Linked DNA regions of Homo sapiens. The protein of the gene in region 1 purifies or fractionates together with the protein of each later gene. This does not show direct contact. Each region holds a gene or a part of one and is shown in the gene's direction. Other genes may lie near its edges. The genes, in order: ARHGEF26, TMLHE, MMUT, PDPR, CKMT1B and DEK.

Region 1 (3,500 bases):
GGGTGTCTTGCCAGAAGCAAGCAGACCTCTGGGGCTCTTCTCTTCAATGCATGGTCATTTGGAGATGGGGGGTTTGGGGGGTGAGGTCTTGTTACCCAGAGCATGAGTAGAAGGCTCCTCCTTCATTCTGCAAATAGAGATGTGGAAGCTGGGGAGGTACACCTGCTGGAGCATGACCAAGATGCATGTAAGGATGCAAGGATCACTTATTATAACAGTTCCAGGATGATGTCAATACTTGAGATGCAATTTAGTGTGTTACATCCATAAAAATAGTAATTAGGTTTAATTGGAGGGGGTTACATTGATTCATAATCAGTAGATAGAATTCAAATTCCAATTCATAGTTTAAAATAAGTCATTCTTTCCCTCTCCTTCCTGCCCACTCCTTGCTGTTTCCACCAAAATGTGCCTCGAAAACTGACAATGTCAGTCTTATCTGCTGAATAATTGACGTGTTCTTTTCCCTTTCCTTTACAGTGAAGAAAGTTACAACGTCAATGATTATTCCTTAAGAGATCAGCTATTGGTGGAATCTTGTGACAATGAAGAGCTTAATTCTTCTCCAGGGAAGAACAGCTCCACAATGCTCTATTCAAGACAGAGCTCTGCCAGTCACCTCTTTACTCTGACAGTCCTTAGTAACCACGCGAATGAGAAAGTGGAGATGCTACTAGGAGCTGAGACGCAGTAAGTATATGTGGGGAAAAGATTGGAATAGCTGATAGTATCTCCCTGACCTGATTTTCTTTGGTTTACAGACTTCCTAAAAACAGCAGCTACTATTCATGTTTTTGTTGAGCACCTACTGTTCGCTAAGCACTATGACTGGGTAATTTTTACAGATGTTGTTCTTTTCATTGTAATCTTCTTACAGGAGAAGGATGTTGTTATTTTTTCCCTATAAGTCCTGATAGATGCACTGTGCTTTAGGTGATGTCTTTATTTTTATAGAGTGGTTTAAAAATCATTTTACTTTTTTCATTGACAAAAATATGATACACTATCCTTAAGGAATATGACTCAACTGGTATTTTGAGTCTAGGCCATAAGCCTTCTTAGGTAATGGAATTCAGGTCGTTTCTCAGTCACCTACCTTCAACCAGAGAGCAGAAAGCCCAATGATTTCTGTCAAAAGAGCTACCCAGTTTACGGAAATATACTGATAAATCCTCTTTCTAATCCAGAGTTTATGCACGACCAAAACAGGCGTCCTGTTGGTGCCTGCAGTTTCGCCAGCAGTTAGTGTGCACTTAGTTCTCACATTGGATGAGTGGCAGTGAGGGTTAACTTTCAAGTCCACCTTAGTGATTTTTTGGTCCACTTAAAGATGACTGACCAATGTTTTTGTTTAGAAACTGGAAACTTCCTCTTGCAATAATCATCATGGGCAGATATTATATTGGGTCAGAGAGTGGAACAGTGGAGGGAAAGGAGAAGTTCCCTAATTCTTTGTCCTCTCAGATTCCTGCCTCCAACTCCATGTCTGCCAGGGTTCCTAAATGGTGTGGTTAAAATGGATCAGCAGCTGATGAATAACAACCCTAAAATTGTAGCAAGATCTTAGAGAAAGTGATCCCAAAGAGGTATCTTCACCTTAAGACTGATTTTAACAGTGTTCCTAGATGATTAACGAGAATATTCAAGAAAAGTTATTGAAGGACACTTGCTAAAGCGCAGTAAGCTTCGCAGCCTTTATGCAAGGTCATCTTAACAGGCGTAAGGACCATTGCAGCAACGTCTCCAGTAGGGGAGAGAGATTGGGCTCAACTTCCAACACAGCATGGGCAAGTGGGAATTCATAGCCATAGGGCAGGATGGAGGTCAGTGGATGGAAACTTACTGAGAGGAAATATCAGAGATAAGGGCTATTCTGGCTAAACTAACCAAACAGGATTCTTGCTGAAGACAGGCCAGGGTAATTAGACATCATAACCTCTGGGATGATGGAGAATAATGAATCTTATCAGATATTGAGGATGGGGTAGGGGATATTCTTGCCAAATTGACTTAGTAGGGTTCTTTGCTAAAACTGGATTTTACGAAGAACTGTACAGATGAGCCTAGGAGAAGGTACAGAAATCTAACTGAAGTTTGGCCAAGCCAAGAATCTTTGTCAAGAGACATAAGAAAAATGTGAAAATTACAAGGCACCCACATAAAATGTCAAATTATTTCATATCTTTTGGCACTAGAAGTAGCATTTCACAGGCTAGAGAAAAAACCAAGGACAGGTTGGTGAAAGCTGTAGCATATTCCAAATGAGCTGGAGAGTTCACCAAGGTAATGAAAAAAGAAATATATTTCATAAGGCTACAGCTACCATAGACAGTGGTTCCTCTGATGGATCTGGGCAAAGTAAATTAAAAGCCTTCTGGAAAAGATTCACCATCGTAGATGTCATTAAAAACATTCATAATTTCATGGGAGGAGATCAACATATCAACATGAACAGGAGTTGGGAAAAGTTGATTCCAACTCTCATGGATGACTTTGAGGGGTTCAAGACTTCAGCGGAGGAAGCAACTGCAGATGCAATGGAAATAGCGAGAGAACTAGATTTAGAAATGGAGACTGAAGATGCAACTGAATTGCTGCAATCTCATAATAAAACTTGAACAAATGAGGAGTTGCTTCTTCAGGATGAGCAAAGAAAGTGAAGTTGCTGTGAGCATTGTGGAAATGACAACAAAGGATTTAGAATATTCCGTAAACTGAATTGATAAAGCAGTGGCAAAGTTTGAGACGATTGACTCCAATTTTGCAAGAAGTTCTGCAGAGGATAAAATACTATCAAACAGCATTGCATGCTATACAGAAATCTTTCATGAATGAAAGAGTCAATTGATGCAGCAAACTTCACTGTGGTCTTAAGAAACGGCCACAGCCACCCAAACCTTCAGCAACCATCACCCTAGTCAGCAGCCATCAAAAAAAAAAGGGAGCTTCATCTTCATGTGTTTGTTTACAAAACAAACAAATGCCTTTCTCTGAGATCCCAGAGTTCTTCCCCTAAAGGTGCTGAAAAGCGCTGATGGCATTCCAAGCATGCCCCTCTGTGTTTGCGGCTGTGGGGAGGTGAGCTTGGGTGGGCGTGTGCTTGCTGATCTGTGAGGTGACCAGCAAGTGACACACCCAAGACCAGGGTCAAGGGGAGGCATTACTTGAACTCCAAAAGTGGTTTAAACCTCTTGGCCAGTGAGGACAAACTAGACTTCCTTTGTGTGGGGAAACTTCTCCTCAAAACAGAATTTTTAGTATGCCTGTGCTTTGGATTTTATATGACTTTAAGGATGAGAATGACTTTAACACTTTGGAAATCAGTAATTTTCCAGTGTTCCAGAGAATTCTCAGAAACTAGAGACTTCCCTTTCCCCGTATAGTTAGTAATGGTGAAAGTGTTGCTGGTTTTGCCTTGTGTTTTCCTTTTCTTTGGTTTACAAGGATTGTTTGTTCTTTATTCAGGCCTTGCCAACATCTCAACAGAGATTTTCCTGACT
Region 2 (5,565 bases), on another chromosome or scaffold:
CTGCAATTAAAAGACACAGACTGGCAAGTTGGATAAAGAGTCAAGACCCATCAGTGTGCTGTATTCAGGAAACCCATCTCACGTGCAGAGACACACATAGGCTCAAAATAAAAGGATGGAGGAAGATCTACCAAGCCAATGGAAAACAAAAAAAGGCAGGGGTTGCAATCCTAGTCTCTGATAAAACAGACTTTAAACCAACAAAGATCAAAAGAGACAAAGAAGGCCATTACATAATGGTAAAGGGATCAATTCAACAAGAGGAGCTAACTATCCTACATATTTATGCACCCAATACAGGAGCACCCAGATTCATAAAGCAAGTCCTCAGTGACCTACAAAGAGACTTAGACTCCCACACATTAATAATGGGAGACTTTAACACCCCACTGTCAACATTAGACAGATCAACGAGACAGAAAGTCAACAAGGATACCCAGGAATTGAACTCAGCTCTGCACCAAGCAGACCTAATAGACATCTACAGAACTCTCCACCCCAAATCAACAGAATATACATTTTTTTCAGCACCACACCACACCTATTCCAAAATTGACCACATAGTTGGAAGTAAAGCTCTCCTCAGCAAATGTAAAAGAACAGAAATTATAACAAACTATCTCTCAGACCACAGTGCAATCAAACTAGAACGCAGGATTAAGAATCTCACTCAAAGCCGCTCAACTACATGGAAACTGAACAACCTGCTCCTGAATGACTACTGGGTACATAACGAAATGAAGGCAGAAATAAAGATGTTCTTTGAAACCAACGAGAACAAAGACATCACATACCAGAATCTCTGGGACGCATTCAAAGCAGTGTGTAGAGGGAAATTTATAGCACTAAATGCCTACAAGAGAAAGCAGGAAAGATCCAAAATTGACACCCTAACATCACAATTAAAAGAACTAGAAAAGCAAGAGCAAACACATTCAAAAGCTAGCAGAAGGCAAGAAATAACTAAAATCAGAGCAGAACTCAAGGAAATAGAGACACAAAAAACCCTTCAAAAAATCAATGAATCCAGGAGCTGGTTTTTTGAAAAGATCAACAAAATTGATAGACCGCTAGCAAGACTAATAAAGAAAAAAAGAGAGAAGAATCAAATAGACACAATAAAAAATGATAAAGGGGATATCACCACCAATCCCACAGAAATACAAACTACCATCAGAGAATACTACAAACACCTCTACGCAAATAAACTAGAAAATCTAGAAGAAATGGATACATTCCTCGACACATACACTCTCCCAAGACTAAACCAGGAAGAAGTTGAATCTCTGAATAGACCAATAACAGGCTCTGAAATTGTGGCAATAATCAATAGCTTACCAACCGAAAAGAGTCCAGGACCAGATGGATTCACAGCAGAATTCTACCAGAGGTACAAGGAGGAACTGGTACCATTCCTTCTGAAACTATTCCAATCAATAGAAAAAGAGGGAGTCCTCCCTAACTCATTTTATGAAGCCAGCATCATCCTGATACCAAAGCCGGGCAGAGACACAACCAAAAAAGAGAATTTTAGACCAATATCCTTGATGAACATTGATGCAAAAATCCTCAATAAAATACTGGCAAACCGAATCCAGCAGCACATCAAAAAGCTTTTCCACCATGAGCAAGTGGGCTTCATCCCTGGGATGCAAGGCTGGTTCAATATACACAAATCAATAAATGTAATCCAGCATATAAACAGAGCCAAAGACAAAAACCACATGATTATCTCAATAGATGCAGAAAAAGCCTTTGACAAAATTCAACAACCCTTCATGCTAAAAACTCTCAATAAATTAGGTATTGATGGGACGTATTTCAAAATAATAAGAGCTATCTATGACAAACCCACAGCCAATATCATACTGAATGGGCAAAAACTGGAAGCATTCCCTTTGAAAACTGGCACAAGACAGGGATGCCCTCTCTCACCGCTCCTATTCAACATAGTGTTGGAAGTTCTGGCCAGGGCAATCAGGCAGGAGAAGGAAATAAAGGGTATTCAATTAGGAAAAGAGGAAGTCAAATTGTCCCTGTTTGCAGACGACATGATTGTTTATCTAGAAAACCCCATCGTCTCAGCCCAAAATCTCCTTAAGCTGATAAGCAACTTCAGCAAAGTCTCAGGATACAAAATCAATGTACAAAAATCACAAGCATTCTTATACACCAACAACAGACAAACAGAGAGCCAAATCATGGGTGAACTCCCATTCACAATTGCTTCAAAGAGAATAAAATACCTAGGAATCCAACTTACAAGGGATGTGAAGGACCTCTTCAAGGAGAACTACAAACCACCGCTCAAGGAAATAAAAGAGGACACAAACAAATGGAAGAACATTCCATGCTCATGGGTAGGAAGAATCAATATCGTGAAAATGGCCATACTGCCCAAGGTAATTTACAGATTCAATGCCATCCCCATCAAGCTACCAATGACTTTCTTCACAGAATTGGAAAAAACTACTTTAAAGTTCATATGGAACCAAAAAAGAGCCCGCATTGCCAAGTCAATCCTAAGCCAAAAGAACAAAGCTGGAGGCATCACACTACCTGACTTCAAACTATACTACAAGGCTACAGTAACCAAAACAGCATGGTACTGGTACCAAAACAGAGATATAGATCAATGGAACAGAACAGAGCCCTCAGAAATAATGCCGCATATCTACAACTATCTGATCTTTGACAAACCTGAGAAAAACAAGCAATGGGGAAAGGATTCCCTATTTAATAAATGGTGCTGGGAAAACTGGCTAGCCATATGTAGAAAGCTGAAACTGGATCCCTTCCTTACACCTTATACAAAAATCAATTCAAGATGGATTAAAGATTTAAATGTTAGACCTAAAACCATAAAAACCCTAGAAGAAAACCTAGGCATTACCATTCAGGACATAGGCATGGGCAAGGACTTCATGTCCAAAACACCAAAAGCAATGGCAACCAAAGCCAAAATTGACAAATGGGATCTAATTCAACTAAAGAGCTTCTGCACAGCAAAAGAAACTACCATCAGAGTGAACAGGCAACCTACAACATGGGAGAAAATTTTCGCAACCTACTCATCTGACAAAGGGCTAATATCCAGAATCTACAATGAACTCCAACAAATTTACAAGAAAAAAACAAACAACCCCATCAAAAAGTGGGCAAAGGACATGAACAGACACTTCTCAAAAGAAGACATTTATGCAGCCAAAAAACACATGAAGAAATGCTCATCATCACTGGCCATCAGAGAAATGCAAATCAAAACCACTATGAGATATCATCTCACACCAGTTAGAATGGCAATCATTAAAAAGTCAGGAAACAACAGGTGCTGGAGAGGATGTGGAGAAATAGGAACACTTTTACACTGTTGGTGGGACTGTAAACTAGTTCAACCATTGTGGAAGTCAGTGTGGCGATTCCTCAGGGATCTAGAACTAGAAATACCATTTGACCCAGCCATCCCATTACTGGGTATATACCCAAAGGGCTATAAATCATGCTGCTATAAAGACACATGCACACGTATGTTTATTGCGGCACTATTCACAATAGCAAAGACTTGGAACCAACCCAAATGTCCAACAATGATAGACTGGATTAAGAAAATGTGGCACATATACACCATGGAATACTATGCAGCCATAAAAAATGATGAGTTCATATCCTTTGTAGGGACATGGATGAAATTGGAAACCATCATTCTCAGTAAACTATCGCAAGAACAAAAAACCAAACACCGCATATTCTCACTCATAGGTGGGAATTGAACAATGAGATCACATGGACACAGGAAGGGGAATATCACACTCTGGGGACTGTGGTGGGGTCGGGGGAGGGGGGAGGGATAGCATTGGGAGATATACCTAATGCTAGATGACACATTAGTGGGTGCAGCGCACCAGCATGGCACATGTATACATAGGTAACTAACCTGCACAATGTGCACATGTACCCTAAAACTTAGAGTATAATAAAAAAAAAAAAAAAAGAAGAAAAGTACAATTGTTCCAATAGAAAAATGTGAGAAAGGACTGAACAGACAAATCATTAAAGCAGGAGTCAGCAAACATTTTCTATAAAGAGCCAGATGGTAAATATTTTCAAACTTTGTGGGCTATATGAGTGAATGGAGCTATAGACAATATGTAACAACATGGACAGCATGTGTTCTGAAACAGGCATTACAAAACCAAGCACCAGATTTGACTCATCAACCATAGTTTGGTAGTCCCTGCATTAAAGAAACATAGATGTCTAACAAATATAGAAAGTATTCTTATTAGCCTTAGTAAGCAAATAAGTTAAAATTATTACAAGATAGCAGTTCCACTTTAGTTACCAAATTAGAAAAAAATATATTTTAAAAATAAGAATACTCCATTTTGATGGACACATATGTACTGTTGGAGGGAATGAAGATAAGTAGACTTTCTAAAAAGTAATTTGATTATGTATATCAGAACTCTTAAAAGTTTATATCTTTGAAATTTCTAAATACAAAGATACGAACTTTTAAGAAATGTAATATACATTCTATTTCTAAATTATAGAAATATGGTTAAAGATGATCACTAATAAATAATAGGAAATTTTTTAAAAATAAATGTACATACCCAGAATAACAGATGGGTTAGGTAAATCTTGGTAATGTATATTTTGTAAGCTTTAAAAATTAATTTTAATGAAGGTTGAATTTTTAAAATGATAAAATTTAATTTTAAAAATTGTTAAAATGTTAAGTGACAATGGCAGAGTCCCAAATTTTATATATATAAATTACATAAACTATATTTATATACATAAATTACATAAAATAAGAGAATGTACAGAAAAACTGGAAGGAATGATGCCAGGCTGTCAATCATAGTTTCATCTGGGTGATAGAATGATAAACATGGTGACTTTTAATTTCCTCATACTTTTTTATGCTTTCCAAATTATCCAAAGTGTGATACTTTTTTACCAAGGGGAGGGAGGAAAAGAGAGAGAAGTAAAAAGGAGAGACAAGTTGTCAACATAGTCTTTCACTCCTTCTGCTGCTTCCTTTGCTTATCCTGAAGATTTTCTAAAGCATTTCAGGGTTGGTTTTCAACTTTTTTTGGGTGGGGTGTGCACAGCAGGTGAAGCCACTTACAAAGTAATTTTATTGTATTGTGTTGATGTCATATAATTAGACAGCAATGTCCTACATCATGTAGAAGAGGAAGGCAGCATTGAATAGTACTGAACTTGTAGCAGCAAGAAGGTGGGGTTCTAGTTCCACCTATAGTACTTAGTTGTGTGATCTTGAGTGAGTCACTGACTTTTTCTCCATCTGTAAAATAAAGATTAGCCCCTTCTAGCTCAAACATTCTGAGTTCCTATATAGATGGAAGACAGGGATGGGGGCAAGGGGAGAGAGTGCCAAGTAGGCTTGTAAAAGCCTACTTGGATTATCATTCTTTGATGACTTGATGAATTTTCCAGAAGATCTTTTACTATATAACTATAATTCTGTAAACTTATTTAGCCTCTGGGAAGATTTATTTGTTCATTCATTTATTCATGCATACCACTCAAACC
Region 3 (5,565 bases), on another chromosome or scaffold:
TCTGTTTAATTCTGAATCTTGAATCCCATGTCTATCTCTTGGTTATTTGGAAGTACATCTCATAGAAACCTGCTAAAAATGGTGCATGGGAGATAAATTATTTGAAACTTTTCCTGTTTGGGAATGTCTTTATTCTATTTTTATAATTGATTAATAGCCTGACTAAGCTTGACATTATTTCCATTCAGGAAATTCATAAGCAAGTTTATAAGCATTGATCTGTTTTTTATTCTAGATTTTTATTCTGGCTTTCAATATTTCTGATCAGAAATTTGATGCCATTCTCATTCAGGATCTTTCTTTCTGAAAGTATTGGGACCTCTTCTTTATTTTTTGTATTGATGTATAACTTGGTGTATTTTTTCCTACATGGTACTGAACCTTTATTGGGTCTTTTTCATCTCACCTTTTTTTAAAAAATATTTTTATAGCTCTAGGAAATTTTCTTGTATTATTTCTTTGACAGTATTTTTCTTGTCATTTTCATATGGGTTCTCTTTCTAGAACTCCTAGTCATAAGCTACGGACCTCCTTAAATAATATCCTGATGTGCTGATGTTCTTATCTTTTTTTTTTTTTTTTTTAAGACAGAGTCTTACTCTGTCACCAGGCTGGAGTGCAGTGGCGTGATCTCGGCTTACTGCAACTTTTGACTCCCTAGTTCAAGCGATTCTCCTGTCTCAGCCTCCCGAGTAGCTGGGATTACAGGCACACACCACCACACCCGGATAATTTTTGTATTTTTAATGGAGACGGGGGTTCACCGTGTTGGTCAGGCTGGTCTCAAACTCCTGACCTCGTGATCCACTCACCTTGGCCTCCCAAAGAGCTGGGATTACAGGCATGAGCCACTGCTCCCTGCCTGCTCTTATCTTTTCTATAGTATATCTGTTTGCCTTTTTTTTCTGTGTTCTTAAAGATTTGTCAACTTTATATTTCTACTTATTTTTACATTCATGTATTATATTTTTGATTCGTAGAGCTCATTTTTGTTTTCTAATTTCCCCCTTATAATTAATGTCATCTTCATTTGTTTCATTAGTACAGAATCCATTTATATTCTGAATTCATGATATTTTCTGAAGTTTTCTTTTACATCCTGTATTGTCTCCATTTTCTCTCTGTGCTTTTTGTTTTTAGTCTTTAGTCAGAGTACAGGCTTTTATTTCAGTAAGACATCTTACCCTTACTTCTGTCTGTATTTGGTATTTGATAGTTCATTGTGTCTCGAGTTCATTTTCTGTAGACAGTAAACTTTGGTTCTCCTGACAGAATGAGAGAGGGGTGGTTGCAGACTCTCAAATTGTCTTCTTCTTTTTAGCTTCTCATTTTACACTTACGTAGAATCCAATATAGATTCTTCTTTCTTGAATTCATCAGGGAAAAGCAGGTTGACCTTGATCCTTTCTGCTAAGTCATATATCATTCCACTGTCTGTTTTCTGCCTTCATATATGAAGCTATGATTGAAGGTTTAAATGTTTCCTGATTTCATTAAAGATGAGGTTACATTGTTTCTCTGCAGCTCAAATCAAAAGTAAATTGCATTTTAAAATATATTTTTCTTACAGACTTTATGTAATTATGAAAACTTTATGTACCTAAAAATAAAGATTAGAGAATTGATGTTGCTTTAATTTTCTCCCAAGACTTAAGAGGTTTTGTGTTTTTTGGAATATACTTGTTAGTTGTCTTTTCAAGTAACTATAAACACACAAATTCTAATTAATGACTTTGATGTTTATTTAATTCTGTTCTTATGAAACATTAACATTTAGTTTATAATTTTATTAATATTAGTAATTATATAACACTCATAACAAATTTATATAGTTTACACACATTTTTAATATTCTCTTTTAGTTTTGTTAATGTTTTTCTTTTTAGCTCATTAATGAAATTGAAGAAATGGGTGGAATGGCCAAAGCTGTAGCTGAGGGAATACCTAAACTTCGAATTGAAGAATGTGCTGCCCGAAGACAAGCTAGAATAGATTCTGGTAAGATAGTGAGAAAGTTCATATATGAAATCCAGTAGTTAAAAAGAAATTCATTTCTGTTTGAAGATAACATGTATAGTTAACAAAACAAAAATAATGAAAAATGGAACTTGGGTAAATTTTTTCTCATATACTTGTATCTATCTATATATGTATTTTCACATACATGGATGCACACAGGCAAGCATATGTACAAAGTGTGTGTGGATGTCTAACCATTGTATATATGTACATGTTTGTGGGTAGATGTCATTAACATTTTGAAGATGACACTGTTGATGATCACAGTGTTCTCTGCATTGGAGTATTCATTCATTCAATGAATACTTCTTTAGTTTATTTTGTTTGAGGCACTTGCTATGTCTGGGCATACAACTGTGAACAGGACAGACATGACCTCTATGACCTCTATGCACACAAATCTTACATTCTAGTAAAAGAGAGGAAAATGAACAAGTAAATAAAGAATTATAGATCATGATAAGTGCTATGAAGGAAATATGAAGGAGTATAACCAGGGGTAGGGGTTGTGGGAAGTTTTATATAAGAGTAATAATCTGGTAGTTTGAGGTAAAATATATTCTTTATCATGTAAGGAAGTATCTTTGTAATTTTGATTTACTAATAGATTATAGAAGGGTTCTTTTTTTGTTTAAAAGTGACTGGCTGAATTCAAAAAAATATTAGAAAAGCTACTGGGTATTCATTCTCTACCTTATAAATCTTAGATGGCAGCTGCTCTGATTGTTATTTCGAAGTGTTAAAAGATTTATTAGAAACCGTGGGAAAGTGTATATTAATAGTTTGGTAGAATAATGAAAGTCCTTCCTTACAGAGACTCTGACATATACCTCTACTTTCCTCTCACACCCCCTTCTCAGATTGGGATTTGCTGATCTATATTGAAGTTGCATTAAGAATTAAGAATACTACTTAAAGATATTAAATTTATAAGGAAAATACATCATAACCAGAGCATTACAATTAGGTAATTATTTGTGAATAAAATTTTTCTTTGGGAAATTACCAGGTTCTGAAGTAATTGTTGGAGTAAATAAGTACCAGTTGGAAAAAGAAGACGCTGTAGAAGTTCTGGCAATTGATAATACTTCAGTGCGAAACAGGCAGATTGAAAAACTTAAGAAGGTATTAATAGCTTGCTTTTTTTTTTTTTTTTAAGTATTTTCTGTGTTCTGGGCTCTGGCTAAGCTTTTAAACTGTCCTGCTTAAATTAATCCTTACAACAGCATGAGGTGTGTATTAATTTCCATCATTTCAAATGTAAGGGAACTAAAGATAAGGCATTGAGAAACTTGCTCAGGATAAATAGACAACCAGGACTCAGTCTTAGTCTGTTGACACCAAAAACTTGTTTTAAACCATGATATCTACCTCTGTGAAACTTATAAGTTGTTATTAAAAACCACACTACAATAATAATACCTTCCATAATTTATAGATTAAAACCAAGGCTTAGATGATTATGTAACTTACTAAAAATTAAAAACAGAATAAAGTTTAGAGTTATTATTTGAACCCAGGGCTTCTTATTGTAATTTCTTTCACCAGAATGATGGCATCTGATACTACTTTGAAATAATTACTTGCTTTTTGATTTTTAAAATTCAACTATATTTGGTAGTGCTTTAGTAAGGTACAGTTTACAATAAACTTTATTTATTTTGATTGAAACTAGAGTATCGTATTCCCTTCTTATTTTTAGTTTGTCACTGAGTTGATCCAGAGCATATGAAATACTAAAATAGATAAATCAAATTAATTGTCACTGTTGTAACCTATATATTTTTGTTGTATGAAGCTACTTTGGCCTCTTAATCTTTGGCATTTGTAAGTACTGCTGTTTCCAAGGTAGGGAGCTTATACATTTAATGGTTTTCTTTGTTTACTTTTCCTGAGATTGTTTAATGTATGGCTTTTTTTTTAGTTCAATCTATAAAAATCTAATAGTATTTATTTTTGGAAAACCCTTTCTTTTCTGTTATACTTTAGGTTATTAACTTTATATCTTCATAGCCTGAAGGATTTCATTTATCATAAATAATGATAAGCCTTATTTTGGGCAACAGAGAGAAATTCATTAATGACAATATAGCAATAATAGTTAACATTTATTGAGCACTTACTGTGTACCCATACTGTACTAAATCCTTTTCTTGAATTGTTGTTTTTGTGTATTGTTTTATTTAACAGGTAGTTACTATTTTTATTTCCATTTACAGATGAGGGAACTAATGATTGGAGAGTCTCATTTAGTTGCTCAAGTTTATAGTATAAGTGACAAAGCTGGGATTTGAATGCAGGCTTTTTGACTCTAGAGCCAGTTTAGGAGAAATGGATATTCTGATGTAACTTTTTCCTAGTTTTGAACTTTCTTAGGACCATGACCAAATCAAAGTTCTTCTATTACAAAAATTAATTTTCATAGCTAGAATCAGATATTTTTATAGCAAAATATATTTCTGCTGCAATACTCTGAGCTCTCTTTAGTAATGAACTCAAGTTTATATTTTCTTACGCTTTCCTTTTACCTATGGTTTTAACAATATTTTACCTGTGGTGGTAATTTTTTTAAAAATGTGAACTATCTCAACAGTAATTTTATATTAAATTATTTTTCTGTAACCGTCAGCCCTAATTAATTTTAGCATCTGTTTTCACTCCCTGAATTTTAGTAATCTGTTGTTGAGATAATTATAGCAAACTACCTAATCTAAGGATGACTAATTTTCTAGTAAACCAGAAAAGGTGTACTTCTTAGGTCTTTGCTCAAATGTCACCTTATCTAAGAAGCTTACAGTGATCCAATATCTACAATAGCACCCTACTACCTTGTGCCAAATCACTTCGTTATTTACTCGATTTACTTTATTTTTCTCTTAAATTGTATGTGTTTATTGTTTCTTTCTCCAATAAAAGATAAAGAAAAATGGGCATTTTTATGGAGAATTTGGAGTTGAGTTTTTTCTTGCTCTAAATATAGTTGGACCTCCATATCTGTGGGTTCCACATCTATAGATTTAACCAATAATGAATTGAAGATATTTGAGAAAAAAAGAATGGATATGTCTGTACTGAATATGTACAGACTTTTTTCTTGTTATTTCCTAAACCATACACTATAACAACTATTTATATAGTATTTACATTGTATTAGGAATTATAAGTAATCTAGAGATGATTTAAAGTATACAAGAAAATGTACATAGGTTATATGCAAACACTACATCATTTTATATAAGGGCCTTGAACATCCCTGAATTTTGCTATCTGTGGATAGGGTGGGCAGTGGGTCATGAAACCAATCACTCACAGATACTGAGGGATGACTATAAATTTTCTGTACCTCTGCTTATATATGCTATATAATACTAGTGGCATCTTGAGCAGTATATTTTAGACTCTTTTACAGGTGGTACAATTTGTAAAAAAATGGATTTATGCAACTTTATTTTGACAAATTATTGGCAGAGCAGAGTTAGGACCCAGGGAAAACTTTTTTACTGTGCTTTTCATTGTATATCTTTTTCTTAGTCCCTCTTTCGCTCT
Region 4 (5,565 bases), on another chromosome or scaffold:
TAATAATGGTGGCTCACGCCTGAATCCCAGCACTTTGGGAGGCTGAGGCGGGTGGATCACCTGAGGTCAGGAGTTCGAGACCAGCCTGGCCAACATGGCAAAACCCGTCTCTACTAAAAATACAAAAAGTAGGCCGGGCACGGTGGCTCACACCTGTAATCCCAACACTTTGGGAGGCCAAGGCGGGCGGATCACAAGTTCAGGAGATCGAGATCATCCTAGCTAACACAGTGAAACCCCGTCTCTACTAAAAATACAAAAAATTAGCCGGGTGTGGTTGCGGGCGCCTATAGTCAGGAGAATGGCGTGAACCCAGGAGGCAGAGGTTGCAGTGAGCCGAGATCACGCCACTGCACTCCAGCCTGGGCGACAGAGCGAGACTCCGTCTCAAAAAAAAAAAAATTTACAAAAAGTAGCTGGGCGTGGTGGCCAGCACCTGTAGTTCCAGCTACTCGGGAGGCTGAGGCAGGAGAATCACTTGAACCTAACAGGCAGAGGTTGCAGTGAGCCAAAATCGCACCACTGCACTCCAGCCTGTGTGACAGGGCAAGACTCCGTCTCAGAAAAAAGAAAACATAGTAAATAGATGACACTTGGTCAGGTGCGGTGGCTCACAACTGTAATCCTAGCACTTTGGGAGGCCAAGGCAGGAGGATCACTTGAGCTCAGCCTGGGCAATACAGCAAGACCTTGTCTCTGAATTACAATTGAAAAACAAACAAAAAAACCCACTTATTTCTAGTGTTCTGCTGTCTAAAAGACTGAGTGCTTTCTGGGAAGCTATTCTGAGTTAATTATGGTGATGCATTAACATGCCACGAATATTTGTACAAACTAGTCGTCCTATAGTCAGCTGCCTAATTTTTGTGGTTTTTTTCTTTTGTTTTTGATTTTGAGGTGGGGTCTCATTCTGTCACCCAGGTTGGAGTGCAGTGGCGCGATGTTGGCTCACTGCAATGCCCTCTCATGCTCAAGTGATCCTCCCACTTCAGCCTCCCAAGTGGCTGGGACCACAGATGCACAACCATGCCCAGCTAATTTTTTTGTATTTTGGTAAAGACAGAGTTTCACCACATTGGCCAGGGTGGTCTCGAACTCCTGAGCTCAGGTGATCCGCCCTCCTCGGCCTCCCAGAGTGCTGGGATTACAGGCGTGAGACAGCACACCCGGCCTAATTTTTTTGGTTTTTTTGTTTTGGGCGGATCACCTGAGTTCACAAGTTCGAGACCAGCCCGGCCAACATGGTGAAACCCCGTATCTGCTAAAAATATAAAAATTAGCTGGGCATGGTGGCAGGCACCTGTAATCCCAGCTACTCGGTAGGCTGAGGCAGGAGAATTGCCTGAACCTGGGAGGCAGAGGTTGCAGTGAGCCGAGATCATACCATTGTACTCCCACCTGGGTGACAGAGCAAGGCTCCATCTCCAAAAAAAAAAAAGGTAATAACCCATTTTGGAAAATATAAAGAAGGAAATTAAAATCACCCATATTTTGTCTATTTAATGGTAGTAACTATTTTTTTTTTCTTTCTTGAGACGGAGTTTCGTTCTTGTTGTCCAGGCTGGAGTGCAGTGGCGCGATCTCAGCTCACTGCAATCTCTGCCTCCTGGCTTCAAGCGATTCTCCTGCCTCAGTCTCCCGAGTAGCTGTAAGCCATCCAGCTAATTTTGTATTTTTTGTCTTTACCAAAATACAAAAAATTAGGTGGGTGTGGTGGCGCATCTGTGGGCCCAGCTACTTGGGAGGCTGAAGTGGGAGAATCACTTGAGCATGAGAAGGCATTTTTGTATTTTTTCTTTTTTTAGTAGAGATGGGGTTTCTCCAGGTTGGTCAGGCTGGTCTCGAACTCCTGACCTCAGGAGATCCCCCCGCCTTAGCCTCCCAAAGTGCTGGGATTACAGGCGTGAGCCACCGTGCCTGGCCATAATCACCGTTAATAGTTTATTCTAGTCTTATTTGTTGTACATATGTGTATATATGTGTGTATGCATTGAATATAGATGTGCATGGTCTTGTTGGGATTATATAAAAAAGTCTTTTTTTTTTTTTTTTTGAGACAGAGTTTTGCTGTGTCAACCGAGGCTGGACTGCAGTGGTGCAATCTTGGCTCACTGCAGCCTCTGCCACCCAGGTTCAAACGATTTTCCTGTCTCAGTCTCCCTAGAATTATAGGCACACTCCACCAGAATCTTGGCTCACTGCAGCCTCTGCCTCCCAGGTTCAAGTGATTTTCCTGTCTCAGCCTCCCAAGTAGCTAGAACTATAGGCACACTCCACCACACCCAGCTTATTTTTGTATTTTTAGTAGAGATGAGGTTTGCCTCATCTCTGTTCAAGGCGTGAGCCACCACGACTGGCCAATATAAAAACATTTTTCTAAAGTACTGGACTGATAAGGTATTTTATTAAGTGAGTGAGTTTTCTTCCTAAACGTTTTTGTTCTATCTGGTCTTGTGACTTTATGTTTATAAAATAGGAAACAAAATGCGTACCTCTGTTGTTACAAAAATTACCGCGGCGTCTTTTATATTTCACATGCAGTTTTTCACATGGTAGAAATCGCACAGTTTCCCAAAAGCTGGCAGGGTTGTGGGAGGAGGCGGCTGTGCCCCATTGCAGTGACACCAGGGGACCCTTCCCACGGTGCTGCTCTCTGTGCCGAGGGTCTGAGTGTCGCTGGATGACTCGGCGTTTCCTTTCTTTCTTAGGGCATGGATTTCATTGGTCGCGACGCCCTCCTGCAGCAGAAGCAGAATGGAGTGTATAAACGCCTCACCATGTTCATCCTGGACGACCATGATTCAGACCTAGACCTTTGGCCTTGGTGGGGAGAGCCCATTTACCGGAATGGGCAGTATGTTGGCAAGACCACCAGCAGTGCCTACAGCTACAGCCTGGAGCGCCACGTTTGCCTGGGCTTTGTGCACAATTTTTCTGAGGACACGGGGGAAGAGCAAGTGGTGACAGCAGATTTCATCAACCGGGGAGAGTATGAGATTGACATCGCGGGATACCGCTTCCAGGCCAAGGCCAAGCTCTACCCTGTCGCCTCCCTCTTCACCCAGAAGCGCCGAAAGGATGACATGGAGCTGAGTGACTTACATGGGAAGTGATGCCACCAGGGCAGCCTCACCTCCTCCCCATCATCTTGTCCTAGAGTGGGCGTCACCTTGGAGCTTCTCTTCCTTCCGCCTCTGTTCCTCTTCTGGAGCCTTTGCCTCCCATCTCTTATCTCCTTGATATAATTTTGAACTTGACCTACTTTAAACTTTTTTGCTCTGCAGCCTTCCTTGCCCTTCCACCTCCTCCTCCTAATATTCACTCTGGGCTCTTCTTCCCTTCCCACCCCTCACTCAGCTTCTCGTGGTGGCAGGAGGTATGTCTGACAGGACAGAAGCAAGCTCCACTGTGGACATGAGTGATGGTGACAGCTGCTTTCAAATTCTGCATCTCAAGGCAGGGCAAGCCGGGGTGGTGCAGGTCTCAGGGCACGAGTCCCTCTCCCTTGGGTTCCATTTTCTTGGAGCAGCCTATTAGTTCTGGTGGGGTTGCCGTGTGTCGGATGCAGCCCTGAGGGGCAGCTCGTGCCTGCAGCCCGGCAGCTCGTTCTCCTGTTCTGCTGTGCTGTGGGCTGGCACTCGATACCTCTGGCAAGAGGATGATTATCTACCTCACTGATAAGAGGCATCGCATGGACGTTCTCTGGTCTGTAGTGGAGACAAGCAGTTAACCTAGCACCATCCTCATCCTCCCTGCAGAAGCCATTAGCAGACCTTTGGGCCAGGGCAGCCTCCCTATAATTTTCTTCATCTCTTGCTAATCTCTATAATAAGGTTGCTTTTTCTTTCTTAGTTGAGTAAACAAGTAAGCCACAGTGTTTGAAAGGGAAAAACCATATTGCCTTGTGTGTTGCTTTTCCCAGTCAAAAGGGTCTGACCTTAGAAAGTCCCCACCAGTGATGCTGAGTGTTCTGCTATGGAAACAATGCTGCTTTTCTCTCAGCTGTCCAAAGTTCAGCCGTTCCTCCTTCCCCTTCTCCCAGTGCGTTTGACTTTGTCAGGTCAGCCTCACTTGTCCCTTTCACAGTTGGCCCATAAAGTCATGTTTCTCTCCCTTTAGAATAGGGAGGGGAAGGGATCAGGTGTGTTGTCCTGGGCCTTTCAACCTTGCGGGCTGTGCTGAGTTCCAGAGAGCTGCCGGAATTCCAGGTTTGACTCTCCAGCACAGAGCAGAGCTACACAGAGGTGACCCACGTTAGTCCACTGAGAGTTCTGAGTCCAAAGGGTGTACGTTGCATAAGGCTAGAGACCGCTTTTCCTCCTTTCCCCCCAGGCTCTTTGTTTCCCTCCACCCACCCTTCCATATCCTCTGGAGCAGGAGACAATGTGGGTGCCCAGAAGTGCCCTGCGCTTTCAGGCAGTGTCTCTGTTTTCCCAAGGTGAAACTTAGATATCATGGACTGTTGTCCAGCCTCAATGCTTCATTTTCCCCTTGCATATCAACTGCCCTAATCTGACTTTTTTTAAGTGCAAATAAACTGCTATAAGACATTTTGGTTAGTAAAACTCTAGCCTTTGGCGTGTTGGTATCTTGGAAGCATTAGCTCTGATAGGTCTATAAGTGTATTAAGGGACATCCTTCCATTTCATTAGAGCAGCTTAAAATGCTCAGGTGTCTGCCTTCTCTGGTGTTTCTTTGGGATCTCTGTTTACCCACTTACGCTGGCTCCTTCTAGACATTTCTTGCCACTTCCCCAACTAGACCACTCCTAGTGATTACTGACTTTAGTGCCTAAACCTTTTTGGAAGGTTCTGGTTGGCTTGTTAGAGGAGCATATGATTAGAATTCTGTTTGGGGGTCTAGTTGTCTTGGAGCAAGTATGTACTTAACTAGCCGAGAGATGCTGCCTCTAGGCAGAGAGGAGGAGAGGTGTTGCCGGCTGGAGGGCCAACCAGTGAACACCAGCTGTGAAGGCCTTGGGAGAGGAGGAACAGGCCCTTGGGCAGATGCAGGCATTACCAGCAGGGAGCAGACTTACCTCCGAAGATGGAGACAGGTGACTGAGAGCTGCAGGCCTCCTCTGCTCTTCCAAACACGTAGCATTTGCACCCCTCCAAAGCCATCTTTGTAAAGGAAAACGTATTTGTAATTGAATCCAGAAGAATTTAGTTACACATAGACATAACTCTTCAACCTTAACTATGGCAATACATTTGTGCTTTAACTGTTACATAGCAGTATCACCACTTACCAGGATCCAAATCGAAATAATAAAAGCTGTCTCCATAGTTTAAAATCGAATAGTGCCATCATCACAGTATATTAGTCAAATAGAAGCTTCATCAGAAATGTATCCCACATAGAGTTTTAAGACTTGGATTCTCTTCTGCCCTTGTTAATCTCCAACTAATTACTACAGATTGACACGTTTTTAATTAGCTGTCCTTTGTAAGAAGTCAGGAAATCTGATGCTGTGTCCAAAATTATGCACTGTTTGTTGAAGTAGAACCAGAAATCCTGACCTCCTGTTAAATGACATCAGTTTCCCCCTCTGAGCAACAGACT
Region 5 (4,945 bases), on another chromosome or scaffold:
CCCTCCCCAGCGCTGAGTACCCAGACCTCCGAAAGCACAACAACTGCATGGCCAGTCACCTGACCCCAGCAGTCTATGCACGGCTCTGCGACAAGACCACACCCACTGGTTGGACGCTAGATCAGTGTATCCAGACTGGCGTGGACAACCCTGGCCACCCCTTCATCAAGACTGTGGGCATGGTGGCTGGAGATGAGGAGACCTATGAGGTAGGGGGTCCCCAGAGTCTCCCTGATGATCCAATTCATCTTCCCAGTAATCCCAGCTCCTTTCCCCTAAAGACCTCTCACTTTCCCCCAAGACTCTGAGCCCCCCATACTTAAGTTTTCTGAACCAGTGAAATCAATGCACAATTGAAGTCTGGGGAGGGATTCCCTCTCCTTAACCATCTCTCCCTCTTAACTCCCCTTAGGTATTTGCTGACCTGTTTGACCCTGTGATCCAAGAGCGACACAATGGATATGACCCCCGGACAATGAAGCACACCACGGATCTAGATGCCAGTAAAGTGAGTTCAAATATCCCACTTCTGATTTGCATTGCCTGTGTACAACACTCTGTATCTCCAACCCCTTCACCTTATTTCCTGACTCATGGTCATTATACAGCTGAGCTTTTAATCTTAATGTAAGGAAAGAATCATATCTTAAGGGGCAGCATATATGGAGATGGAAGGATAGATAAGAATGACCATGACCCAAGGTGGGTGGTTTGGGGAAAGGTCTGCAATGCCCCCTTCAATTCCAGTGCTTTCCCAAAGGGCCTCTTCTTCCAATGCATGCAGGAAGAATGCACAAAGAGTCCTCTAATGCCTAAGGAAGGTCTCTCCTTTCCCAGGGGCCCTCAGTTCCCACCGTGTTTCTGTGACTTACATTCATTTCCCTTATCTCCCAGATCCGTTCTGGCTACTTTGATGAGAGGTATGTATTGTCCTCTAGAGTCAGAACTGGCCGAAGCATCCGAGGACTCAGTCTGCCTCCAGCTTGCACTCGAGCAGAGCGACGAGAGGTGGAACGTGTTGTGGTGGATGCACTGAGTGGCCTGAAGGGTGACCTGGCTGGACGTTACTATAGGCTCAGTGAGATGACAGAGGCTGAACAGCAGCAGCTTATTGATGTGAGGGCCTTAAGAGGGTGCTGGTTGGTGGGAGCAGATGGGGAAGGCTGGGCCAGATGAGACATGGGCTCTGAAAGGCCCAGGGGCCACCATGAAGATTCTTAACCCAAGTCCCGTTACTCTTCCCAGGACCACTTTCTGTTTGATAAGCCTGTGTCCCCGTTGCTGACTGCAGCAGGAATGGCTCGAGACTGGCCAGATGCTCGTGGAATTTGGTATGAAGCTGCTCATTACCTCTTTTGTCTTCATGCCCTCATAAATGCTTTTTTTCCCTCTATCTCTCCCAATTCTTGCCTTGCCTCTTGATCACTGTCCCTCTCCGGCCCTCAGGCACAACAATGAGAAGAGCTTCCTGATCTGGGTGAATGAGGAGGATCATACACGGGTGATCTCCATGGAGAAGGGTGGTAACATGAAGAGAGTGTTTGAAAGATTCTGCCGAGGCCTCAAAGAGGTTAGAGAAGACTATGTAGGGGAGCTAGGTGGGAGGACATAAGGAAAACCAAAGAGTAGCATAAATAGATTATGTAATTTACCAACCAACCCAGGACATGTCTTATAGTAAAAAGGACTATCTAGGACTCACTCCAGGACTAAAGGTGTAAACCAGCTGGGACCATACTGGGAAAACCAGGACATGTGGTCACACTAAGATTAGGAAAAGAAAGAGTGTCAGGAATCTTAGGAAGTGAACAAGGCTGTTGACAGAGAGTGCAAAGAAGGAATAAATGAGATGGCACGTCAGTGCCTGGGATGTGTGCAGTGGGATGGTGAGGTGTGCAGATAAGGAAAACATTCGAGCTTAGATTGATGTTGGCGGGGAGAGGTTGCTGTGTTCATGACTCTAATATAACCACCCAGTTCTGAGACAAGGTAGGCCTTGACTCTGGATTCTATCATTCTTGTTAAAGTATCGGGTCTAGGCTTTAAGTTGAGAGTTCGGAGAGAGACTGGGGAAGGTGGAGGATAGAATGGTTCAAGTTCTAGAATATGTGGCTCTAGATGAGAGGTTGAACTGAATCATCAATCCTACATGGATTGGGTCTCCGTATTCAAGTCTACATTAGAAATCCCCATAAACTCAATTCAATTCTTACTGTATGTTCTCAAACATACAGTTCTATTTTAGGTTTGCAAAGAAAAAGAGCTCCTCTTTTAGATTCTGAGAAGTTTCTACTATTTTTGGCAAGTAATAGATAACATATTCTGACTATGAGTGGGTAGGGAAGTACCTTTAAATTATATGCCTCAGTTTCCTCATCTGTAAAATTGGGATAATGAGATTTTCTACATTTTAGGTTGTTGTGGGGATTAAGTGAAATACAGGTAAAGTACTTGGTCCACAGTAAGTGCTTAATAAGTGTTAAAGTGTTAGCTGCAATATTATTCTGGATGGAAGAGTTTCCCCCCATGTTCAGCATGTAAGATATCCCCTATGGCATGGTTCCTTCTGAACTATAAAGAGGATCCCTTTACTCATGTTGGGTTGTGGTCTTTGTGACCATCATTCTGCTAGATCCCTTGTCTCTTGAACTCTAATAGTCATCTTCATGACTACATGGTTAAGTGAAGCCAAACGCCTTCCCCCCGCCCCCTATTCCTATGAATCTGGCTTTTCTGCTCTGTTTTCATCTTTCTCTGCATTCACACAGGTGCTCCGTTCACAGCTAACAGAATGTTATCTTACCTCTTCCTGGCAAAGCTTACACCTTCATCTTCTGTCTGAAGGGACCCTTCTAAGCTCTAGGCTCATTAGCAAAGCAAAGATAATCGATGCATGCAGACCTCATTGAATAATCAGTCATCTCTCAGTTCAGTTTACCACCTCTGTTCATTTCCCTAGATCATCCTTAATACACCACTCCTTCGAGTTTTCTTCTTCCACATAAGATATTTTTTCACAATCTCATTATTATGCACATCATAATTTTGCATCATGCATGCATGAAAACAATAACAAACCTTTTTCATTTAAAAAAAGACCAATGTCATTCATTCACAGCCAAGTTTCTGTTCTAGACATATTTCTAGTGTTCTTGTGGGTCTAGCTAAGGGAGGGTCCAGGGTTAATGAAATATCCCTGATTTTTCGTTAACAAAACCTTTGTGGACTCAGGTGGAGAGACTTATCCAAGAACGTGGCTGGGAGTTCATGTGGAATGAGCGTTTGGGATACATCTTGACCTGTCCATCTAACCTGGGCACTGGACTTCGGGCAGGAGTGCACATCAAACTGCCCCTGCTAAGCAAAGTAAAGGAGTTGTGGGGTTACAGAGGGGTGTGAGTAAGGAAGGGTGGGTTGTGGATGGGGAGGGAGTGGACCCTTTGGAAAGGAGCCAAACATGTTGTGGCTAAAGGGTCAGAGGACAGGCCAGGCACAGTGGCTCATGCCTCTAATCCCAACACTTGGGAGGCCAAGGCAGGCAGATTACTTGAGCCCAGGAGTTCAAGACCAGCCTGGGCAACCTGGTGAAACCCCATCTCTACTACAAATACAAAAGTTAGCTGGGTGTAGTGGAGGCTGAGGTGAGAGGATCACTTAAGCCTGGGAAGTCGAGGCTTCAGTGAGCTGTGATCACTCCAGCCTGGGTGACAGAGAGAGACCCTGTCTAAAAAAAATTAAAAAAGAAAAAAGAAAAAAGGAAAAAAAAAGTTCAGGAGACAGAGCTCTGAGCAGGTTCAGGGCTCTTTCAGGTAGGACTAGTCTCTGCCTCTATTGACCCTGCTCCCAATCCCTATCTCCTCTCTAGGATAGCCGCTTCCCAAAGATCCTGGAGAACCTAAGACTCCAAAAACGTGGTACTGGAGGAGTGGACACTGCTGCTACAGGCGGTGTCTTTGATATTTCTAATTTGGACCGACTAGGCAAATCAGAGGTGAGATCCTAAGGGATTAGGACAAGGAGAGGTATAGGTCTGCGAGGGCCGAAATATGGCAGTGAGTGAGCCTCCGGGATGTAAGATAATCTGAAATGAAATTCAGGTTGAGTGGGGAGGCAATTGGAAATGAGCAGGCAAGTCAGTCAGTGATAAAGAAAAACTCAGACTGTAGGAAGCAGATCAAAGATTAGTGTCCCTTAGGTGGAGCTGGTGCAACTGGTCATCGATGGAGTAAACTATTTGATTGATTGTGAACGGCGTCTGGAGAGAGGCCAGGATATCCGCATCCCCACACCTGTCATCCACACCAAGCATTAACTCCCCATCGCCAGCTGATGACTCAAGATTCCCAGGAGTTCTGCTCATTCTAATGATGGCCCATTCTACTTGCTCTGGACCTGCCCCCGCATCCCCTGCCTCCATCCTAGTAAAGACTCCTTGCTATGCTGCAGCTGTCTGTGTTACTTCTAATGGTGGGGTGAGGAGGGAGCAGCCTTCAGGAAATGAAAAGAGGCAGTGGGATTATTTATGATGGAAAGAGACTCCAGATATGGCAACCCAGGAACACTGATTCTCAGGTGGGTGGAAAGCATTAACATTTTACCCATATTCCTCATCAGCTTCTGAAAATAATCAGGATGCACTTCTGTTTGCACTTTATTCATTATGACTTAAGATTTCTCTCCCCACAATCTCCTTCTACTGTAGAGACAGGCTCATAGCAGGTGGCCAAGGAAGCTGATAGTCAATACCAGGGACCAGGAAGGTCGTGACCAGTCCTGGAGGCCCCAGGCTGTACTTCGACCTATAATAGACAGGGAATGGGAGTAATATCACAACTCAGCTCTCCAGGAGCATTGATACTTGGAAATTAGCGCTCTGCCTGTAGACTCCTTCACTCCAGGGATCTCCCTGGGTGCACTCTAAGAGCCAGACAGCACCAAATTAGGG
Region 6 (5,236 bases), on another chromosome or scaffold:
AGGGGACCAGCGTTCAGTATACGGAGGATCCGGCCGGCTTCTGAGGTCCCTTAGTATTTATTGGTCATTCTTGGGTGTTTCTCGGAGAGGGGGATGTGGCAGGGTCATAGGATAATAGTGGAGACAAGGTCAGCAGATAAACATGTGAACAAAGGTCTCTGCATCATAGTCAAGGTAAAGAATTAAGTGCTGTGCTTTAGATATGCATACACATAAACATCTCAATGCCTTACAGTATTACTGCCCGCATGTCCCACCTCCAGCCCTAAGGCGTTTTTCCCCTATCTCAGTAGATGGAACGTACAATCGGGTTTTATACCGAGACATTCCATTGCCCAGGGACAGGCAGGAGACAGATGCCTTCCTCTTGTCTCAACTGCAAAGAGGCGTTCCTTCCTCTTATACTAACCCTCCTCAGCACAGACCCTTTAAGGGTGTCGGGCTGGGGGACGGTCAGGTCTTTCCCTTCTCACGAGGCCATATTTCAGACTATGACATGGGGAGAAACCTTGGACAATACCTGGCTTTCCTAGGCAGAGGTCCCTGCAGCCTTCCGCGGTGTTTGTGTCCCTGGGTACTTGAGATTAGGGAGTGGTGATGACTGTTAACGAGCATGCTGCCTTCAAGCATCTGTTTAACAAAGCACATCTTGCACAGCCCTTAATCCATTTCACCCTGAGTTGACACAGCACATGTTTCAGAGAGTAACAGCATCTCAAGGCAGAAGAATTTTTCTTAGTACAGAACAAAATGGAGTCTCCTGTGGTCTACTTCTTTCTACACAGACACAGTAACCATCTGATCTCTCTTTCTTTTCCCCACACTCTGTGGTCCAGGCTGGAATGCAGTGCCACCAACACAGCTCACTGCAACCTCAACCTCCTGGGCCCAAGCCATCCTCCTGCTTCACCCTCCTCAGTAGCTGGGATTACAGGCATGCATGACCATGCCTGGCTACTTTTTAAATTTTTTGTAGACACAAGGTCTCACCAGGTTGCCTGAGGCTGGTTTCGAATTCCTGGGCTCAAGTGATCTTCCCACCTAGGTTTCCCAGAGTGTTGGAATTACAGGCGTGAGCCATCACATCTGGCTTGTTTATGGTTAGTTAATTCATTCCAGACTCTCAGCCTGAAAACACTGAGAATGTTTGCATGCTAGTTTTCCACATCATATACAATATTATTAAAATACTCATTTGGAATAGAATTCCATATGGGTTAACCAGAGTACTGTTGGGATGGTTGTGGCTATTTGCACGTAGCAGATTTCCTGCTTTTATTCAAAGACAATATTACTGGATTTTAAAATCTGCTTTTAACATTATTTTTCCTTTTCACTATACATAGGTCTATGAAAATTATCCTACTTATGATTTAACTGAAAGAAAAGATTTCATAAAAACAACTGTAAAAGAGGTAAATATTTCAGTCTTTCAAGTTTGACTTTAGAAATATAAGACAAAAGTAATTACATAAAATACTCCATATTTTTCAAAATATTCATGTCACTAAATATCACATTTGATCCTCACATTTCTTCATAATAGGGAAATTTATTTCTTCTCATTCCCACTTTAAAGCTTAAAATTAAAGTTTGAACAGTTAGTGATAAGACCTGAACTCAGATTATGATGTGGCCTCATGGTGTACCTGGGTAGCTGGGCATCTCAACGTTGCTCTCACAAATACTTGAGGAAGTTCCTGTCTACGAGGCAAAGGTGAGGGGAAGATCAGCAGGTAGCTGTAATTCTGTATTGATCTCAACTGATTTTTGAAGGACAAAATAGTAAAATAGATGTGGAAAAAATGGGATAAAGGTTTATGATTTATGGCAAAATAATGTTTCTCTTTCATTACAGCTAATTTCTTGAGATAGAGGACAGAGAAGATGACTCGTTCCCATAGATTTGAAGATCTGATTTATACCATTATACCAGCAAAGAGAATGTATTTCCTTTTCTAAATCCTTGTTAAGCAACGTTAGTAGAACTTACTGCTGACCTTTTTATCTTGAGTGTTATGTGAATTTGAGTTTGCTGTTTTAAATTGCATTTCTATGCCATTTTTAGTTTAAAATCTTGCATGGCATTAATTGTTCCTTGCTTTTATAGTTGTATTTTGTACATTTTGGATTTCTTTATATAAGGTCATAGATTCTTGAGCTGTTGTGGTTTTTAGTGCACTTAATATTAGCTTGCTTAAGGCATACTTTTAATCAAGTAGAACAAAAACTATTATCACCAGGATTTATACATACAGAGATTGTAGTATTTAGTATATGAAATATTTTGAATACACATCTCTGTCAGTGTGAAAATTCAGCGGCAGTGTGTCCATCATATTAAAAATATACAAGCTACAGTTGTCCAGATCACTGAATTGGAACTTTTCTCCTGCATGTGTATATATGTCAAATTGTCAGCATGACAAAAGTGACAGATGTTATTTTTGTATTTTTAAAAAACAATTGGTTGTATATAAAGTTTTTTTATTTCTTTTGTGCAGATCACTTTTTAAACTCACATAGGTAGGTATCTTTATAGTTGTAGACTATGGAATGTCAGTGTTCAGCCAAACAGTATGATGGAACAGTGAAAGTCAATTCAGTGATGGCAACACTGAAGGAACAGTTACCCTGCTTTGCCTCGAAAGTGTCATCAATTTGTAATTTTAGTATTAACTCTGTAAAAGTGTCTGTAGGTACGTTTTATATTATATAAGGACAGACCAAAAATCAACCTATCAAAGCTTCAAAAACTTTGGGAAAGGGTGGGATTAAGTACAAGCACATTTGGCTTACAGTAAATGAACTGATTTTTATTAACTGCTTTTGCCCATATAAAATGCTGATATTTACTGGAAACCTAGCCAGCTTCACGATTATGACTAAAGTACCAGATTATAATGCCAGAATATAATGTGCAGGCAATCGTGGATGTCTCTGACAAAGTGTGTCTCAAAAATAATATACTTTTACATTAAAGAAATTTAATGTTTCTCTGGAGTTGGGGCTCTTGGCTTTCAGAGTTTGGTTAATCAGTGTTGATTCTAGATGATCAACATAATGGACCACTCCTGAATGAGACTTAATTTTGTCTTTCAAATTTACTGTCTTAAATCAGTTTATTAAATCTGAATTTTAAAACATGCTGTTTATGACACAATGACACATTTGTTGCACCAATTAAGTGTTGAAAAATATCTTTGCATCATAGAACAGAAATATATAAAAATATATGTTGAATGTTAACAGGTATTTTCACAGGTTTGTTTCTTGATAGTTACTCAGACACTAGGGAAAGGTAAATACAAGTGAACAAAATAAGCAACTAAATGAGACCTAATAATTGGCCTTCGATTTTAAATATTTGTTCTTATAAACCTTGTCAATAAAAATAAATCTAAATCACTGGTGTTTTAAGTCACTTGCATTTGATATCTTATAGGTGTATATAGCATTTCCTTATGGGGAATAATTCTGAAAAGGGATTTTTAAATTGATTCAGCCCTATAACCTATACAATTTGGAATACTCTTTTGTGGTAATGGACCATTTTCTTGGAGTGACTTCACAAAACTGAATAATTAAGGTTAATTTTATGACCATTTGCTATAAAGAAGGTAAGTAGTCATGCATAGAGTATTTGGAAGTGAGGAAATGGAGTTGTTCTGTATGAAAGTTCTTGATGAGTACGCACACTTATTAAATGGATGTATCACCACTACAGTACAGAGTACATGTGAAAGTCTAGTTTTTTATTAGTTTTACACAACCAGCTATTCATGAACTGTAGTTAAAACATTGTAAATCTGTATATTTACTGCTACTCAATTACAAAATCTTCAGATGGCATTGAAAAAACATATCCAAAGTAACTCAAGAAAAAAGTACCATGGCTTCTTAAACAAAAAATCAAATGAAGTATGTCACTTGATAGGAAGTTTAAAACACACATTTACCATACTTTAAAGTAGGTTTTCCCCTACTTGTAGCACAGTTCAAGTGCCTGGAAACTAACATAATAATTTACTGTTAACCATTTCAAACTTAACATTTTGCATTTATCACTTTAAAACACATGCTGTCTAAACATTTTAATACATGATACTTTAAAGCAGAATACTTGCCAGTCAGTACCAATGAGTCTCAACAAATAACCTAAATATCAGAGTTGTCTTGGGTTAACTTTTGAGATATACAGCTGTTGGCTTGTTTTGGGACCACACTTTGATTGGGGGGGGCGGGGGGCGGGCGGTGGGGGAGGTGTCTTAAATGCCTGAGGTTCACTGCACATTCTTGGTGTGTTAGGTATTTACTCGTTATAAACTGACCTACTTTTAAATTTTTAAAATACTCAATATTTTGAAGTCTCTTTAAAGTCATATTTAGTCCCTTCTTTAAAGCAAACCAGTATATTATTGTTCAAAAACAAAAGCATATTTCTAACCTGTATACTGAAGTTTCTTGGCAAAATAGGCATCCTGAAGACCCTGCAACCAGTGTTTTATTTTAGAATGAGATATTATTAAACTGTTTTCTGTCATGAGTGTTTTTAAAAAAAAGATAAAAGTAAATACTTGCCATGTTCTTAGGCCTTTAAAATATAGCTTATAAAATGTATACTATTTACCAGGAGAGCTCACATTTTTCTGCAGTTTTCCAGTGGACCTGCCTATGGAATACTGTAAAGAAAAATCTGCAAAAATATTCCTAGCAATTGAATCAGTGCTTTTAAATAAAAGAAGTGGAGAGGGGCTTGGTTAAATTATTCTGACAAGTTTTTTTGCTAGTGGTTGCCAAAATTAAGGATATTTAAAGTGTCCTATCACCCAAATTTGGCTTTAAGAAAAAGCTATATTCTGTGTCTATAGTGTGAAGCCCACACTATCTGTGCTGCATTCTCAATGATACAATACCTATCTGGAAACTTTCCTGTTTTGCCAATGGGTGCACAAATCTAAAACATTTTATCACAAAAGGTACTTGAATTTAAATTTCTTTTGAACACCCAGTAGGAGGAAATATGTACAATACAAAATACCTAGAAGCTTCATTTTACTGTCAACTGGAGTTTGTGCTGTATCCAAAAAAAAGTTCTATCTAAATTTTAAGTAAAAGCTCAATATTGGACCTATATAAAAATTAAGGCTCATTGGTAAAGATACTGATAAATTGTCACAGAAGAAAAACATGGCTTTATCTGGTTTTTAAATGATTCCTGCTTGATTGACTTGGT

Evidence for each region.
Region 2: the proteins of ARHGEF26 (region 1) and TMLHE purify together in Homo sapiens (affinity purification with mass spectrometry; one large-scale study listed by BioGRID and IntAct). This does not show direct contact.
Region 3: the proteins of ARHGEF26 (region 1) and MMUT purify together in Homo sapiens (affinity purification with mass spectrometry, with the first as the bait; one large-scale study listed by BioGRID). This does not show direct contact.
Region 4: the proteins of ARHGEF26 (region 1) and PDPR purify together in Homo sapiens (affinity purification with mass spectrometry; 2 studies listed by BioGRID and IntAct, with this or other methods). This does not show direct contact.
Region 5: the proteins of ARHGEF26 (region 1) and CKMT1B purify together in Homo sapiens (affinity purification with mass spectrometry, with the first as the bait; one large-scale study listed by BioGRID). This does not show direct contact.
Region 6: the proteins of ARHGEF26 (region 1) and DEK purify together in Homo sapiens (affinity purification with mass spectrometry; one large-scale study listed by BioGRID and IntAct). This does not show direct contact.

The regions. Positions count from the first base shown.
Region 1 is NC_000003.12:154,239,890-154,243,389, forward strand, and holds part of ARHGEF26 (rho guanine nucleotide exchange factor 26), read left to right. Parts: intron 1-480; coding exon 481-690; intron 691-3,500. UniProt on the Homo sapiens protein: Activates RhoG GTPase by promoting the exchange of GDP by GTP. Required for the formation of membrane ruffles during macropinocytosis. Required for the formation of cup-like structures during trans-endothelial migration of leukocytes.
Region 2 is NC_000023.11:155,514,440-155,520,004, reverse strand, and holds part of TMLHE (trimethyllysine dioxygenase, mitochondrial isoform 1 precursor), read left to right. Parts: intron 1-5,565. UniProt on the Homo sapiens protein: Converts trimethyllysine (TML) into hydroxytrimethyllysine (HTML).
Region 3 is NC_000006.12:49,445,249-49,450,813, reverse strand, and holds part of MMUT (methylmalonyl-CoA mutase, mitochondrial precursor), read left to right. Parts: intron 1-1,886; coding exon 1,887-1,998; intron 1,999-3,028; coding exon 3,029-3,144; intron 3,145-5,565. UniProt on the Homo sapiens protein: Catalyzes the reversible isomerization of methylmalonyl-CoA (MMCoA) (generated from branched-chain amino acid metabolism and degradation of dietary odd chain fatty acids and cholesterol) to succinyl-CoA (3-carboxypropionyl-CoA), a key intermediate of the tricarboxylic acid cycle.
Region 4 is NC_000016.10:70,153,767-70,159,331, forward strand, and holds part of PDPR (pyruvate dehydrogenase phosphatase regulatory subunit, mitochondrial isoform 1 precursor), read left to right. Parts: intron 1-2,573; exon of another isoform or gene 2,574-2,708; coding exon 2,709-3,113; 3' UTR 3,114-5,565. UniProt on the Homo sapiens protein: Decreases the sensitivity of PDP1 to magnesium ions, and this inhibition is reversed by the polyamine spermine.
Region 5 is NC_000015.10:43,594,962-43,599,906, forward strand, and holds the end of CKMT1B (creatine kinase U-type, mitochondrial precursor), read left to right. Parts: coding exon of another isoform or gene 1-10; coding exon 11-209; intron 210-412; coding exon 413-508; intron 509-894; coding exon 895-1,116; exon of another isoform or gene 1,117-1,117; intron 1,118-1,245; coding exon 1,246-1,331; intron 1,332-1,446; coding exon 1,447-1,570; intron 1,571-2,414; exon of another isoform or gene 2,415-3,231; coding exon 3,232-3,366; intron 3,367-3,865; coding exon 3,866-3,991; intron 3,992-4,195; coding exon 4,196-4,312; 3' UTR 4,313-4,445; downstream 4,446-4,945. Other genes in the region: STRC (stereocilin precursor), read right to left, coding at 4,711-4,799. UniProt on the Homo sapiens protein: Reversibly catalyzes the transfer of phosphate between ATP and various phosphogens (e.g. creatine phosphate).
Region 6 is NC_000006.12:18,222,353-18,227,588, reverse strand, and holds the end of DEK (protein DEK), read left to right. Parts: intron 1-1,346; coding exon 1,347-1,415; intron 1,416-1,858; coding exon 1,859-1,870; 3' UTR 1,871-3,729; downstream 3,730-5,236. UniProt on the Homo sapiens protein: Involved in chromatin organization.